Regions from separate parts of the Homo sapiens genome. Here regions 2 and 3 are each linked to region 1. Evidence: fine-mapped expression QTL. A gene starts in region 1. Each other region holds a variant in brackets. All regions are shown on one strand. Distances are between the middles of the regions.

Region 1 (5,747 bases):
TGGCCTTTCAGGAAAAAAAAAGTTTTAATTGGAGTAGTGGGAGGTGGAAATCATAACGCTTAGCTGTACTCACCTCTCCATCCTGCATTCTAAATATTCTTTTGATTCCTTTCTGCACAAAGCATTTTCAAAATTATTGTTATGAAGACACTTCATGAATTTCTCTTTAAAGCTTTTACATTCACCTAGAACGAGAAAGAAAACAGCATGTTCTTTTCAGAGTGAAAAGTGATGCAACCACACAACAGCCTTAAGAGCTGCGCTGCTTTTCCTTTCAAAACTTGTTTCCTCAGGCCGGGCGCAGTGGTTCACACCTGTAATCCCAGCACTCTGAGAGGATCACCTGACCCCAGGAGTTTGAGACCAGCCTGGGCAACACAGTGAGACCCCCATCTCTACCAAAAAAAACCTTAAAAGTTAGCTAGGTGTGGCGCACGTCTGTGGTTCCAGCTACTCAGGAGGCTGAGGCAGGAAGATCGCTTGAGCAAAGGATTTCGAGGCTGCAGTGAGCTTGATCACACCACTGCACTCCAGCCTGGGCAACAGATCAAGACCTTGTCTCCTAAAAATAATCCAGGCTGGGCACGGTGGCTCACGCCTGTAATCCTAGCACTTTGGGAGGCAGAGGTGGGCGGATCACCTGAGGTCAGGAGTTCAAGACCAGCTCGGCCAACTTGGTGAAACCCCATCTCTATTAAAAATACAAAAATTAGCCGGGCATGGTGGCGGGTGTCTGTAGTCCCAGCTACTCGGGAGGCTGAGGCAGGAGAATTGCTTGAACCCAGGAAGCGGAGGTTGCAGCGAGTCGAGATCACACCACTGCACTCCAGCCTGGGTGACAGAGTGAGACTCCATTTCAAAAATAAATAAATAAATGATCCAGCCTGGTCAACATGGGGAAACTCCATCTTTAAAATAAAAAATAAAAAAACAATAATAATTAGCTGGGTGTGGTGTTGCACACCTATAGTCCCAGCTACTCTAGAGGCTGAGACAGGAGAATCGCTTGAACCCGGGAGGAGGAGGTTGCAGTGAGTCGAGATCACACCACTGCACTCCAGCCTGGGCGACACAGTGAGAGTCCATTTCAAAAATAAATAAATAAATAATCCAGCCTGGGCAACATGGGGAAACCCCATCTCTAAAAAAAAAAAAAAAAAAAAAATTAGCTGGGTGTGGCGCTGCACACCTATAGTCCCAGCTACTCTAGAGGATGAGACGGGAGACTCCCCTGAGTCCAGAAAGGAAGGAGGCCGAGGCTTCAGTGAGCTATGATTGCACCACTGCACTCCAGCCTAAGCAACAGAGTGAGACCGTGTCTCAAAACAAAAACAATCAAACCCAAACTTGTTTCCTTCATAAACATGCTGAAAACAACAATGGAAAAAACCCACAACGAGGTAAAGTCAGCCCAGTACGAGGTTAAGGTGCAATGTAGGTGATGGTCACAGGAGAGTTCAGGGTAAAAATTCTTTCATTTTTGCTATTTGAAAATGTCACAATAAAATGTTGGGAAAGAAACAGTAATTCACAGATCGTTTTTCTTTTCTTTTCTTTCTTTTTTTTTTTGAGACGTTGTCTCACTCTGTCGCCCAAGCTGCAGTGCAGTGGCCCGATCTCGGCTCACTGCAACCTCCGTCTCCCGGTTCAAGCGATTCTCCTGCCTCAGCCTCCCGAGTAGCTGGGACTACAGGCGAGCCACATCACACCCAACTAATTTTTGTATTTTTAGTAGAGACGGGGTTTCCCCATGTTGGGCAGGCTGGTCTCGAACTCCTGATCTTAAATGATCCGCCCACCTCGGCCTCCCAAAGGGCTGGGATCACAGGCATGAGCCACCGCGCCCGGCCCACAGATCCTTTTTCGAAGCCTTCATGTCCACGGAGGCAACCCCACCGGAATACGGCCAGAAGCACTGGGAGATCAGCAGCACTTTTGAGCTTTGCAGCAGACATCGCTAGGCACCGTCTAAGCCTCGGCTGCAGCTGCGGGCTTCGTGGCCGCCGAATGCCCCGCTCTGCAAACCCGGGGCACAGACAGCCCGCCGGGTGAGTCAGGGCGGAGCCGGAGACCCGGAAGCCTGACGCAAGGAGTCGGTGTCGCTGCCCTCGTCACGGGGGCCACGGTCCTGCCAGCTCCCACCTGCAGGGTCCATGCCGCAGCAGTGACCCAGGGCTGGGTGGGGCGGAGGGGCGGGCCGCCGTGCCTCAGTTTCCCCGCCTGCACCGCGCTAGATGCCGGCACCCCATAGGGCTCCGCGCTGGGCCGCGACCCAGACCCCCCATCGCAGACCCCTGCCCGCCGACCTTCCGCCGCTCACCTAAGTGATCCAGCGGGAAGCTGCCCTTGTCCGGGGGCCGCGGCTGGAAGCTCTTGGTCCCGAAATTCATGGCGGTCGACATGTTGGCGACTCCGGAGTCTGCGAGCGCCTTGCGAGCGTACGCAGGGCGGCCGGCGGAGCGCCGAGCAGGCACCCCGGGAGCGCCGAGCACGTCGAGCAGGCCCCGTCCCCGCCCCTTGCCCAGGCCCGGCCCCACCCCTTGCCCAGGCCCGGCCCCACCCCCTCGGAGTCAGCAAGCTCCTGAGCCCCGGTGGGCGCTGCCCGGGCTTTCCCGTCCCCTGGGACCCTCACAGCAGTCGGTAGCAGAATCAGCTTTTGGAATTGGTGAGAAACCGAGGCCCAGAAAGGTTCAGCGAATTGCCCGAGGACACATAGCGGTGCCGGCGTCTCTGCATCCCAGGTGTCTGCTGGGGCCTCGGTTTCCCCATCGCACAGAGACCTCATCACGGGGCCCATCCGGGGAGGAAGGCGGCACAGGAGGGACAGGAGAGCCTGTGGACTCGCTGCCTGCGGCTGCTGGAGCCAGGTGACACCACCGAGCAGCTTCAACAACAGGAATGTGCTCTCAGTCCTGGGGTCTGGAGTCCAAGCAGTGGGCAGAGTGGGGGCCCTGGGGACAGTCCCAGCCTCCCAGCTTCTGGGGGCCGCCAGCCTGTGAGGTTCCTTGGCTTGCAGAAGCACCACCTGGTCTCGGCCCCTACGTTCCCATGGTGTCCTGCGCATGTCCAAATTTACTATTTTTATTTATTTATTTGAGACAGGGTATTGCTCTGTTGCCCAGACTAGAGTGCAGTGGCATGATCACGACTCACTGCAGCCTCGACCTCCTGGGCTCAGCGATCCTCTCACCCCAGCCTCCTGAGTAGCTGCGACCACAGGCACACACCACCACACCAGGCTAATTTTTCTATTTTTCGTAGAGATGGAGTCTCCCTATGTTGCCCAGGCTGGTCCTTAACTCCTGGGCTCAGGCAATCCTCCTGCCTCAGCCTCCCTAAATGCCGGGATTATAGGCATGAGCCACCATGCCCAACCTAAATTTCCTCTTTTTATAAGGATAGCAGTCATGTTGGGTTAGGGGCCGTCCCAATAACTTCATCTTAACTAATTATATCAGCAGCAACCCTATTTCTTTGTTTTGTTTTTTAAAACGGAGTCTCTCTCTTGTTGCCCAGGCTGGAGTACAGTGGCTCGATCCTGGCTCATTGCAACCTCCACCTCCCAGGTTAAAGCAATTCTCCTGCCTCAGCCTCCCGAGTAGCTGGGATTACAGGCGCCACCAACACACCCAGCTAAGCTAATATATTTTTTTTCAACACAGAGTCTCACTTTGTAACCTAGACGGGCGTGCAGTGGTACGATCTCGGCTCACCGCAACCTCCACTTCCCGAGTTCAAGAGATTCTCCTGCCTCAGCCTCCAGAGTAGCTGGGATTACAGGCATGCGCCACCACACCCGGCTAATTTTTTGTACTTTTCGTAGAGACGGGGTTTCACCATGTTGCCCAGGCTGGTCTCGAACTCCTGACCTTAAGTGATCCGCCCACTTCAGCCTCCCAAAGGGCTGGGATGACAGGCGTGAGCCGCCGCACCTGGCACCTATTTCCAAAGCAAAGGTCACATCCTAAGGTCCTAGTGGCTTCACCATACGAATGGGGGTGGAGGGTAGTTACAGCTCAACCTAGGGCAGAATGAAAGTGTACTGTAAGCGGTAAGGCCCGGCCTTTGCGTGTCGATGTTGTCATGGCAACAGCAGTCGTGGGAAAGGGCTCAGTGAAGACCCCAGCGTCCACCCGCGGAGTCTCTCCCAGCCCTGAACCTGTACCCACATGCCCTGGCCATGAGGAAGTCGAACACTGGCCCGTTTAGAGCACCATGGGCGGCCCAAGCTCCAGCCTCCACTCACTCATCCATCCCACCCATTTCACAATCACTGGCCAGGCCTTCGTGGTAAGCACAGTGGGTCCCCAGCAACACCGAGTTCGCTGCCTGGCCCCCCGCTCTGGACCCTGGTGACACCTGAACCCACTGTTGCTTAGGAGCCAGTTCCTGCAACTTCCCAGGGGTTGTTTGCAGACAAGGGCTTGGTCAAGGCGGCCCAACAGCCCCCACCCCGGGGCCTGCCCTTCTTCAAGCCTGGCCCAGGCGTCCCCTCCCCATGAGGCTTCCAGCTCTCCCCCTTGCTGGGCCCTGGTGAGCCCGCCCCTCTGCAACGCACACCATTAGATTCCTGCGCCCAAGGTCGGACTCTGCTCTGTGTGCCCAGAGCTGAGCCGCGAGTCTGGCACTGAATGTTTCTGAACCGCAGGGCAGTGGGGACCTCAGGCCAAGGCCCCAAGGAGGGCCCAGGGCTGCAGAAATCTAGTTGTCAGGGCCTTGATTGGCCTGTGGCTCTGGGCCCACTGAAAACTACAAAAGGAAAATTGCAGCTTGTTCCTGTCATATAAACAACTCTTTTTACCCGGTTAGAACCAGGGGCCCACACACTGGGTTACTCATTAATACGTTTCCAGGGCTGTGAACAATGGGAGCTTTTATTACCCAGCAAAGAAGCGCTCACTCACTTGACTGCAGCAGCCGCTTAGCAGTGGAAGGACAGCCCCTCCGTTGGGGCTGCCCTAAGCCTCTCTGTCTGGGAGCCCCGAGGGACCTGTGGCCTGGAGGTGACAACCGGCTTTTAATTGACTGTCACCTGGCAAATGATTATTGCTTTATATGAGATCTTTAGCTGGGAGAGAAGAGGAAAGAATTTTTATGAGCAGTTCACCGGTGTAAAAAGTGGGGAAGGGGCTGGGGGCGGTGGCTCACACCTGTAATCCCAACACTCTGGGAAGCCGAGGTGGGCGGACCACTTGAGCCCAGGAGTTTGAGACCAGCCTTGGCAACATGCTGAAACCCTACGTCTATAAAAAATACAAAAATTAGCCAGGTGTAGGGGCGCACACCTGTGGTCCCAGCTACCCCAGAGGCTGAGGTGGGAGGATCGTCTGAGCCCTGGGAGGTCGAGGCTGCAGTGAACCAAGATCGCACCACTGCACTGCAGCCTGGGCAAAAAAGTGAGACCTTGTCTACAAGAAAAAAGGAAAAGCTCAGAGGAGGGAACGAACCTTGTTTGAGCCCCAGCAATCAAGGTATTGCAGGTATTTCCACCCGGATCCCCAGAGCCTGGAGCAGTGCCTGGCACGCTGGACATGCTCCGTTTATAGCTCGAAGATGAATGAATCCAGCTAAGTAGGTCTTATTATCCTCATCTGACACAGAGAAACAGACTCAAGGGGTCACAGCCCTTGCTGAAGCTTACGTGGCCGTGTTCGCGTTATCTGCCGCTGCATAACAAAGCACCCCAAGCTTAGCAGCAGTCATTACCCGTGAACTTGCACTTGCACTTGGGCAGGGCTTGGTGGAGA
Region 2 (5,747 bases), 37 kb before region 1:
AAGGTCCAACAAAGCTGGACACAGTGGCTCAGGCCCGTAATCCCAGCGCTTTGGGAGGCTGAGGGAGCAGAATTTTTTTTGAGACATAGTCTGTTGCCCAGGCTGGAGTATGATGGCACGATCTCGGCTCGCTGCAACCTCTGCCTCCCGGGTTCAAGCGATTCTCCTGCCTTAGCCTCCCGAGTAGCGAGGCACGCACCACCATGCCCGGCTAACTTTTGTATTTTTAGTGGAGATGGGGTTTCATCATGTTGGCCAGGCTGGCCTCGAACTCTTGACCTCAAGTAATCCACCTGCTCGGCCTCCCAAAGTGCTGGGATGACAGGCGTGAGCCACTGCCCAGGGTGTGGGTGCCACAGCGCAGTCTTTCTGCTGCTGCACGTGTGAAATGTCTCATTCTGAAACGGCAAAATGTGGGGAGCGTCCAGCCCCGCCCTGGGGCGATGGCTAAGAGGGCTGCTGTGTGACTCTCCTGTTTTCTTCTGGCTCCCAACGACCCTTCACAATAAGTCAAGGGAGTGGAATGGCTGAAAGGCACCCTAGAGAGAACAGTCTCTCTGGGGGAGATGAGTCATCTCTGAACTGCTTTTATTTTTAAGTGGAGGCTCTCCTGGGTGAGGCTGGTGGAAATCGAGGCGCTTCCCCACAAGCAGGTGCGGCTGTGGACCCAAGCCTGTTTGGGGAATCATGAGTGGAGAGGACCCCACCCTTCAGGCCTGGCGGAGGATAGCCCCCCTCCCAACGCTGATCGGGGCCCACCCCTGGCTGGTGGGGGACTCCCATGCCAGGCGGCGGAGGCCCAGTGGGGCTGGGGCTGGGCCTGGGCTCTGAGTCACTGCCAGGAGGAGAGGCACCCAAGTGAGCCCCCGGCCGGGGATGGTGCGTGAGAACCAGCAGGCTGAACCTCGGATTTGGGGGTCATGCCCGGCCTCTGGGATTTGGGGGTCACGCCGGGCCTCGGATTTGGGGGTCACGCCCGACCTCTGGGATTTGGGGGTCACGCCCGGCCTCTGGGATTTGGGGGTCACGCCCGACCTCTGGGATTTGGGGGTCACGCCCGACCTCTGGGATTTGGGGGTCACGCCCGGCCTCTGGGATTTGGGGGTCACGCCCGACCTCTGGGATTTGGGGGTCATGCCTGGCCTCTGGGATTTGGGGGTCATGCCTGGCCTCTGGGATTTGGGGGTCACGCTGCACATCTGGGATTTGGGGGTCACGCCGGGCCTCTGGGATTTGGGGGTCACGCCCGACCTCTGGGATTTGGGGGTCACGCCCGGCCTCTGGGATTTGGGGGTCACGCCCGACCTTTGGGATTTGGGGGTCATGCCCGGCCTCTGGGATTTGGAGGTCATGCCCGGCCTCTGGGATTTGGAGGTCATGCCCGACCTCTGGGATTTGGGGGTCACGCCCGGCCTCTGGGATTTGGGGGTCACGCCCGACCTCTGGGATTTGGGGGTCACGCCCGGCCTCTGGGATTTGGGGGTCACGCCCGACCTCTGGGATTTGGGGGTCATGCCCGGCCTCTGGGATTTGGGGGTCATGCCCGGCCTCTGGGATTTGGGGGTCATGCCCGACCTCTGGGATTTGGGGGTCATGCCCGGCCTCTGGGATTTGGGGGTCACGCTGCACATCTGGGATTTGGGGGTCATGCCCGGCCTCTGGGATTTGGGGGTTTTCTGTCACAGCTGTTAGGCTCCCTGATTAATGAAGCCTGTCTCCCCATTAACGTGGGCTTCTTGAGGACCCCAGACCCAGCACCCCCGGATCTGGCACAGAGCTCAGTCCGGAGCAGGTCTCCACGGGAGTCATGAATGAAGGGGCCACTAACAGCCCTACTTCAGCAGAGCCCCTGTCTTCGAGAGAGACCACAGGCTTTCTCCTCACCCCTCAGTCAGTCAAACATTTGCCCAAGTGACCCTGTCTCGGGTACCAGGAGTTTTGCCTGTGCTGAGTAGGGCGGCTTTTGGGAGAAAGAATGCGGTTACAGGATCAGCCGTTGTTTGGTTTTGCGGGGTTTTTTTTGTCTTGTATTGTATTGTTTTGTTTTGAGACAGGGTCTTGCCCTGTTGCCCAAGGTGGAGTGCAGTGGTGCAATCACAGCTCACAGCTCACTGCAGCCTCCAACGCCTGGGCTCAAGCGATCCTCCTGCCTCAGCCTTCCAAGTAGCTGGGACCGCAGGCATGCACCAGCATACCCAGCTAATTTTTAAAATTTTTGGTAGAGATGAAGTCTCTCTATGTTGCCCAGCTTGGGCTTGAACTCCTGGGCTCAAGCGATCCTCCTGTCTTGGCCTCCTAAAGTGTTGGGATTACAGATGTGTGACGCCGTGTCTGGCCTGCAAAGTATTTAGTTACACACACCCCTGGAGAACAGGTGGGGAAGAACCACACTGAAGTCCCAGAAGAGAGAGACCTGACTCCCCCCGGGCTCCGTCTTCTCCCGAAGCCTTGGTGAAAGATGCCGCAAATGCTCGGTACGTGGCTGTGCGAGGGGCGCCCAGAAGGCACGCCAGTCTCCGGGCCTCGGTCTCCTCATCTGTCGGATGGGACAGCACGAGCCACTTACAGGGGTAGCAGGCAACATGAGCCCAGCTGGGAACATCACCGCTCGGGGTGCAGTGGGGGGCCCTCCTTCTCACCGCATGGCAATGCTGTTGGTTCTGCTCCGACAGTGTGGACCACGGACCCAGGCTTCCTGTCTCATGGCCTTTATCTGCCCATCTAGAAATTCTGAGGGAGGCTGAGCAACGGCCACCAACAGCTCCCGCCCAGCCCAGGGTCCAGAATGCCTGTGCCCACCTCCAACCTCACTCGGGTGCTCCGGGACAGGCTGTCCCTCTCCTGGCCTGGAAGGAGGCCTGTTCACAGAACCCAGGGAGCTGGGCCTGGAAGGAGGCCTGTTCATGGAACCCGTAGCAGGAGCTGGACTCTACGGCGTGGACCAGCTGCCTGTTGTTGTAAATAAGGTGTTACTGGAACTCAGCCATGCCCATTTATGAACTGTCTATAGCTGCTTTTGTGAGCGGTCGTTGACTAGCTGTGATGGAGACTCTA[C/G]GGCCCTAAAATATTTACTGTCATTTTTGTTGTTTTTTGAGACAGAGTTTCGCTCTTGTTGTCCAGGCTGGAGTGCAATGGTGTGATCTCAGCTCACTGCAACTTCTGCCTCCCAGGTTCAAGTGATTCTCCTGCTTCAGCCTCCCGAGTAGCTGGGATTACAGGCGTGCACCACCATGCCCGGCTAATTTTCTATTTTTAGTAGAGATGTGGTTTCACCATGTTGGCCAGGCTGGTCTCAAACTCCCGACTTAGGTGATCCGCCTGCCTCGGCCTCACAAAGTGCTGGGATTACAGGCGTGAGCCACCACGCCCAGCCTACTATCTGTCTTTTTAAGAAAAAGTTTGCTGGCTGCGTGTGGTGGCTCACACCTGTAATCCCAGCACTTCGGGAGGCCAAGGCGGGTGGATCACCTGAGGTCAGGAGTGTGAGAACAGTCTGGCCAACATAGTGAAACCCCGTCTCTACTAAAAATACAAAAATTAGCCGGGCGTGGTGGCGGGTGCCTGTAATCCCAGCTACTTGGGAGGCTGAGGCAAGAGAATCACTGGAACCCGGGAGATGGAGATTGCAGTGAGCCGAGATCGTGCCACTGCACTCCAGCCTGGGCAACAGAGTGAGACTTTGTCTCAAAAAAAAAAAAAAAAGTTTGCCAATGTCTGCTTAGAGGGAAAAATGGGGGTGGCACAGATGAGTGAGCCCAAGAAGGGCTTGTAAGTAGGACTGATAGCTTACAGCCATTACTAATATAGCCTATCTTTGACAAACCAGCTACAAGTGAGGCTAAGGAGTGGTTACAACCTGTCCCGACCTCTTGCAACTGGCACAAGGTCCCCCGGTGTAAAGTTAGAGGTTGTCTGATGCAAACCTGTCACATCCTCCTTGGTATTTGTGTGTGAGCATATACATACGTGCGTGCATACCCACAGACACAACATGAACAGCCTACTGGGGAGGGCTCAGGGAGTTAAATGTGAAGAAATAGAGACACCAGCCAGGTGTGGGTGCTCACACCTGTCATCCCAGCATTTTGGGAGATTGAGGTAGGAGGATCACTTGAGCCCAGGGGTGGAGGTTGCAGTGAGCCGAGATGGCACGACTACACTCCAGCCTGGGTGTCACAGACCCTGTCACACACACACACACACACACACACACACACACACACACACACAATATGGAGACATGACCTTTTACATAAGAATCAAAAGACGAGAGCCAGTTAAATCAAGTGTGTTGGAGACAGGAGCAACACAAGGTTGTCACTGGTAGGGCAGGAAGTTTGTATCATTTTTAAAAAGCTTTTGTGGAGTTTTACTAGGATGACTAAAATTTAAAAGATGGATACTACCAAGTGTTGATGAGGATACAGAGCAAGTGGAACTCTCATCCACTGCTGGTAGAAATACAAATTAGTCCAACCCACTCTGAAAACAGCTTGGCAGTTTCTTACATAAAGATATATCTCCCATATGACACAGCCACCCTACTCCTAGGAATTTACCCAAGGGAAATCAAAATGTAGGTCCATAAAAAGATGTACATCCAACAATATATAAAAAGAGTAATACACCATGATCAACAGGGGTTTTTACCAGTAATGCAAGGTTGGTTTAACATTTGACCATCAATCAATGTCATTCACCATATTTACAGGTTAAAAAAGAAAAAACATACAATTGTTTCAATAGATGCAAAAAATGCTGGCAAAATGCAACATCCTGATAAAATTCTCAGAAAACTAAGAATAGAGGGGAATTTCCCCAATTTGATATAGAGGATTCAACAGATGCAAAAAATGTTGGCAAAACGCAACATCCTGATAAAACTCTCAGAAAACTAAGAATAGAGGGGAATTTCCCCAATTTGACATAGATGATTCAACAGATGCAAAAAATGTTGGCAAAATGCAACATCCTGATAAAACTCTCAGAAAACTAAGAATAGAGGGTAATTTCCCCAATTTGATATAGAGGATCTATGAAACATGTACAGCAAATGTCATATTCAAGGGAGAATGACTGACTGCTTTCCCCCAAGATCAAGAACAGGACAAGAATGTCTGTTCTAACCACTCCTAGTCAACGTTGAGCTAGAGATTCTAGTCAGTGCAATAAGGCAATATAAAGAAATAAAAAGCATCTAGATTGGAAAGGAAGAGCTAAAACTATCTTCATTAACAGACAACATGATTGTCTATGTAGAAAATAGAAAAGATTCTATTAAAAACAACTATGAGAACTAACAAGTTTAGCAAGGTTGAAGGATACAAGATAAATATACAAAAATCTATTGTATTTCTATACACTAGCAACAAGCATTCAGAAATTGAACATTTAAAAATACCATTTATAATAGCATAAAATGTATGAAAGAGGGATAAATGTGATGAGAAATGAAACATAGGACACTGAAAACTACAAAATATTGCTCAGAGAAATTAAAGAAGACCTACAGATTTTGGAAAGAGATAACGTTTTCGTGGGATGGGAGACTCAACATTAATAACACATATATTCTCTCCAAATTATAGATTCAATGCCATCCCAATCAGAATTTCAACAGGATTTTAAAAATAGAAATGAACAAGCTGATTCTAAAATTCATATGTAAATGCAAAGGACCTAGAATAGCTAAAACAACTTAGAAAAAAAAGACAAGGACGGGGAACTAACACTACTTGTTTTCAGAA
Region 3 (5,747 bases), 27 kb before region 1:
CCCAGGCCCCCACCCCCTCACGCTCACGGGCGGCCCTGGTCCCATTCCATTGTGAGGATGGGGCCCTTTGGCCCTAGGAACAGGCCCTCCCAGGACCCAGATCCGCTGGCCCCTACCCGGTTCAGGGACACGTGCCCCTCTCCTGGATCCCTCCCAGCAGCACCCGGACACAGTCCATTTTCAGAATCCCCCAAGGACCCCCCCAGGCTCTGCCCTGCCCCTGCCCTCCCACCCTCTCTCCCTCCTGGTGCTCCAGCCCCATGGCGGGAACCCCACGGTGAAGGCCATCCCCAGTCCTCCCTGGACCCACCCTGTCCCGGAGCCCACTCTCTGGGGCCCCCACCCCGCGCCCCTCCAGGCTCTTCAGGGCCCTCGCACAGGGCCGACTCCTCTGCGGCCCATCTGGTCTCTCGGCTGTCAAACCCTATTTTTGGAACTCGATAGAGGTGGTGGTTGAACAGCATGGAGAACGTTCTAAATGCCACTGAATTTTCACTTTGAAATGATTAACCTGAGGCCGGGCGGGGCGGCTCACGCCTGCAATCTCAGCACCTGGAGAGGCCAAGGTGAACGGGTGGAGCCCAGGAGTTCGAGACCAGCCTGGGCAACATAGTGAGACACCGCGACTCCATCCTTATGAAAAAATTTTCTATAAAAGGTTAATTTTTCATATGAATTGCACCTCGATTTGGGGTTTTGTTTTTTTTCATTTTTTGTTTTTTTGAGAGAGGGTCTCTGTCACTCAGGCTGGAGTGCAGTGGTGCGATCATGGTTCACTGCAGCCTCGGCCTCCTGGGCTCAGGTAATCCTCCCACCTCAGCTTCCTGAGTAGCTGGGACCACAGGTGTGCACCACCACATCTGGCTGATTTTTTGGTTTTTTTTTTTTTTTTTTTTTTTTAGAGATGGGGGTCTCACCATGTTGGCCAGGCTGACCTTGAACTCCTGGGCTCAAGCGATCCTCCCACCTCAGCCTCCCAAAGTGCTGGGATCACAGGTGTGAGCCACCGCGCCTGACCTTGATTTTTTAAAAAAGGAGAGAGAGAGACATTCACACACTGGCAACCCCTGTCTCTAGCTCGGGCCTCTTTCCTCCAGAGCTGCCCGTGTGGCTGCTGTCCCCTTGGCGGCCACCGTGGCTTCTCACAGAGCCTCACATCGCAGGTCCCTCCCGTCTCCCTGGACACTGCTCCCACGTCCCCATCTCAGCGAGTGAGGTGCTGGCTAAAGGCCTGGGTGTCCTCATTTCTACTCTGCCCACCACACCCCGACATCCCGTTGACCAGCAAATATTTCAAGACGATCCAGGCTTTGACCCTCCCCACACTCACGCCCCGCCCTAGGCCTAGCCACCGCCACCCGGCCTCGGTCACTGCAGCAGCGTCCCACCCACCTCCCGCTCCCGCGCTGGCCCTACCTGCCCTGGACCCTGTGACGCGTCGTGGGCTGGGACACTCCTCGGCTCACAGAATTCCCATGGTTCCCATCCCACCCAGAGTCACAGCGCAGCCCTCACAGCGTCCCCCAGCCCTGCGTGGCCCCACAGCCACCTCTGACCCCGTCTCCCCGCCCTGGCTCTGGGCACACTGGCCTCCTCACTTCTCCTTTGACCTGCGAGGTGCACGGCTGCCCCCACCCCCGACACCACCAGCCCCTTTACCCCACTCCCTCTTCCGGAGGGGCCGTCTCCCTCCTCCACTGAGGACCCAGCACTGCCAGGGACCTGCTCCTCACCCCACACCTTGGCCACCCCACGGCCTGCCCTGAACCCACTCTATTCCAGCTGGGCCTTTCCCGCTCACAACCCCCGAGCCCCAGCCCCCATCCTGAATCTGCAGGACCTGACCCAGCCATGTCTGTCCCTCCCTCCTCACCCCATGTCTGCCCTGCCCCCTTGCCCGGGTGGGATCCCAGGTCCATCAGTGCAATGCCCTCTGCCCCTCACCCCTCCCTCCATCATTCAGTACGGAGCCCACCTCTGTACCCACCGAGGCCTGAGCTTCTGAATGGAACACGCCCTGCAGAAGCGCTCCATGGTGGCCCGAGTTTCGGCTTCCCTCCCCGCCGGCCCATGGCCTGGCCTCGTCCTCCATGAGGAAAACAGTCACTTCCAAAGCCTTCCCCTGCATGCCAGGCCGAGCTCCCACTGCAGGTCTCTGCCCCGGTCTTAGCAGAACTTCTCCAAATGCATCTCCAGGTGCCACGACCCCCTCTGGCCTCTCATTCACCTGCTAAGCTGTCACCACCACCACCTGGACAGTGACTTGGGGTCAGTTTGCTCCTCCCTGACCCACCTCCCAGCCCATAGGTGCCCAGTACTCCTTCCTGAAAACG[C/T]GTTTACGGGGCATCCAAGATTCTATGTCCTTTTTTTTCCCTTGAGACAGAATATCACTCTGTCGCCCAGGCTGGAGTGCAGTGGCATGATCTCGGCTCTCTGCAACCTCTGCCTACCAGGTTCGAGCGATTCTCCCACCTCAACCTCCCGAGTAGCTGGGATTTCAGGCGTGCGCCACCACACCCAACTAATTTTTGTATTTTTAGTAGAGATGGGGTTTCACCATGTTGGCCAGGATGGTCCTGATCTCCTGACCTCGTGATCCTCCCGCCTCAGCCTCCCAAAGTGCTGGGATTACAGGCGTGAGCCACCATGCCCGGCCCTCACTCACAATTCTTACTCTACCCTCGGCCCTCCTTGTCCCCAAGTGCCATCACCATCTGTCTGTCTTTGTCTCCCCACCAAGGAACAGCAGATGCTGAGAGTGAAGGGCTGGTCTGGTCCGGTCTCCCTGAGCCCCAGTGACTGCACAGGGCAAGGCACTCAGTACATGTGTACGGAGCGGGGGAAGGCGCCTTGCCCGCCGGAGTCCAGGGTAGGGCACCACTGGAGTTCAGCCCTTGTGGGCCTCTGCCTCCCCCGGGCACATGAGCACATACCTCCTGGCCACACGGCCACGTGCCGCCTCAGCCACCTTGGACCCCACCAAGTCCCTTCCTGTTTCCTCATTCTTTCATTTGCAAAATGGGGCCATGCAGCCACCTGACGGGTGACGGGAGAAGCAGTTGGGGGATGCGGCTGGCTGCCAGGTACTGCCACAGAGCAAGGCTTGGCAAATGCCTCTGAGTCTAAAACGGCAGTGGCCTAGGAGCACAGGGCCTGGGGGCAGGGGCAGTGCCACACCTAACCTGAGATATGTCCAGAGCTGAGGTCTAGCTCACAGCATCTGTGCGTCGGGGAAGCTGGCTGCGGTCACGGCCGGTGCAGCGGCCCAAGGAGTCCACAAAGCAGTAACCTTGGCCCACACCACAGCTCCGGTGCATTTGGAGAGGGGGCCCAGTCTAGGCTGAAGTTGGGGGGAGCCTGGCCAGGGCCTGGGCACCAGGCGCAGGACAGAGGGAAAGGCCTCCAGCTCCTCCCAGCCCTGAGTGCCAGCTCATCGCCCACACCAGCCCTCCACACCCGGCCACAGGGCAGGCAGGCAGGAAGCGGGCACGTGTGACCTGCTGGCCTGTGGCTTGAGTGCAAAACCAGGTAGGGGAAACCTGTCTAGCAGTTCTTCAACCAGGTAAGCACAGAATCGCCATGGGACCCAGCAACTCCAGTCCTGGGTACAGACCCAAACAACCTGAAGCAGGGTCTCAGAGAGACATCTGCACCCTCGTGCTCACACAGCACGATTCACAATGGCCCAGAGGTGGGAGCAGCCCAGTGTCCGCCTGCAGACAAACGGGCACACGCAATGTGGTTCATCCACACAGGGTATGATCCTGTCTTCACATGCAGGGAAATCCCAGCACTCGCCACAGCATCTGTGAACCTGGAGACGTTAGACTGAGTGAAACTGGCCAGTCACAAAAGAATGAATACCAGCCGGGCATGGTGGCTCACACCTGTAATCCCAGCACTTCGGGAGGCCGAGGCAGGCGGATCACAAGGTCAGGAGATCGAGACCGTCCTGGCTAACGTGGTGAAACCCCATCTCTACTAAAAATACAGAAAACTTAGCCGGGCATGGCAGCGTGCACCTGTAGTCCCAGCTACTCGGGAGGCTGAGGCAGGAGAATGGCATGAGCCTGGGAGGCGGAGCTTGCAGTGAGCTGAGAAGGTGCCACTGCACTCCAGCCTGGGCGACAGAATGAGACTCTGCCTCAAAAAAAAAAAAAAAAAAAAATGAATACCGCATGGTTTCACTTCTACAAGGTCCCTGGAGTCATAAGATTCATAGAGACAGAAAGTTGAGGCCAGGCACGGTGGCTCATGCCTGTAATCCCAGCCATTTGGGAGGCCAAGTTGGGAGGATGACCTGAGGTCAGGAGTTCAAGACCAGCCTGGCCAACATGGCGAAACCCTGTCTCTACCAAAAATACAAAAATTAGCCGGGCGTGGTGGCAGGCGCCTGTAATCCCAGCTACTCAGGGGACTGAGGCAGGAGAATCGTTTGAACCCAGGAGGCAGAGGTTGCAGTGAGCTGAAATGGCGCCACTGCATTCCAGCCTTGGGAACAGAGCAAGACTCCGTCTCAAAAAAAAAAAAAAAAAAAAAACAAGAAAAGAACAGAAAGTAGAAGGGTGGGTGCCCCGGACTGGGGAGAGGAAATCTGGAGCCCTTGTTGAATGGGGACAGAGCTTCAGTTTGGGAAGATGAGGAGGTTCTGGAGATGATGGTGGTGGCGGTGGCACGGTGAGTGAACGTGCTCAAGGCCCTGGAACTGTGCACTCGAAACGATGAGAAGGTAAATTATTATTTTTAAAAAATCCGGCCAGGCGCGGTGGCTCATGCCTGGAATCCCAGCACTTTGGGAGGCCGAGGCGGGTGGATCACGAGGTCAGGAGACGGAGACCATCCTGGCTAACATGGTGAAACCCCATCTCTACTAAAAATACAAAAATTAGCCGGGCGTGGTGGCGGGTGCCTGTAGTCCCAGCTACTCGGGAGGCTGAGGCAGGAGAATGGTGTGAACCTGGGAGGGGGAGCTTGCAGTGAGCCGAGATCGCACCACTGCAGTCCAGCCTGGGCGACAGAGCGAGACTCCGTCTCAAAAAAAAAAAAAAATATCCAACCTAGTTGGGCCGCTGCCCTGGGGAGTGAAGGGAGTCTGCCCAGCCCCCGCCCACACTCAGCAGCCTTCTTCCCACCCTCACCCATGCCGGCCAAATTCCTGAAACTGGGAGTTGGAGGTTGCAGTGAGCAAAGATCGTGCCACTGCACTGTAGCCTGGGTGACATCGAGAGACTGTCTTAAAAAAAAAAATTAGCTGGGCATGGTGGCATGGACCTGTAGTCCCAGCTACTCAGGAGGCTGAGGTGGGAGGATTGCTTGAGCCCTGGAGGCAGAGGCTGCAGTGAGTTGAGATTGTGCCACTGCACTCCAGCCTGGGTGACAGAGCGAGACCTTAAAATAAAAAAGAACAAAAGAGCTCAGACACCCCAGTCCTTCCGGGGCATCAGATGGCCTGAGACTCAAAGAGGACAATATGTGTGTTTTTCTTTTTTTTGAGACAGGGTCTCACTCTGGCCTAGGCTGGAGTGTGATCACGACTCACTGCAGCTTCCAACTCCTGGCCTCAAGCGATCCTCCGGCCTCGGCCTCCCAAAGCACTGGGATGACAGGCGTGAGCCACCGCGCCCGGTCCCTGTCCTCTGTTGCGATTTGGCAGGCAGCTCCAAGGATGTACGGAGGCACCCCTCCCTCCCCCAAACCCCCTCCCAGGATGGAGACCCCCACCCAGGTCTTGCAGGACAGTGGGTCCA

The links.
Region 2: its variant is fine-mapped to the expression of COX19 in whole blood (TOPMed, PIP above 0.99).
Region 3: its variant is fine-mapped to the expression of COX19 in whole blood (TOPMed, PIP 0.98).

What each region holds. Positions count from the first base shown.
Region 1 is chr7:973,108-978,854 of GRCh38, forward strand. COX19 (cytochrome c oxidase assembly factor COX19) reads right to left here and starts at 2,442. Exons shown (of 3, transcript NM_001031617.3): 1 at 2,321-2,442; 2 at 74-185. The coding sequence starts at 2,402. It also overlaps a transcript of CHLSN not described here. RefSeq lists enhancers at 1,665-2,547, 1,847-1,916, 2,548-3,428 and silencers at 2,157-2,316, 2,337-2,616.
Region 2 is chr7:936,145-941,891 of GRCh38, forward strand. The region is part of intron 1 of ADAP1 (ArfGAP with dual PH domains 1); the gene reads right to left. Among named protein-coding and RNA genes, the nearest start is that of ADAP1, 16 kb to the right of the region's middle. RefSeq lists a silencer at 811-860. The variant C/G (reference allele first, on the strand shown) is at 3,055.
Region 3 is chr7:946,339-952,085 of GRCh38, forward strand. The region is part of intron 1 of ADAP1 (ArfGAP with dual PH domains 1); the gene reads right to left. Among named protein-coding and RNA genes, the nearest start is that of ADAP1, 5.5 kb to the right of the region's middle. RefSeq lists enhancers at 1-86, 2,572-3,217, 3,218-3,862. The variant C/T (reference allele first, on the strand shown) is at 2,334.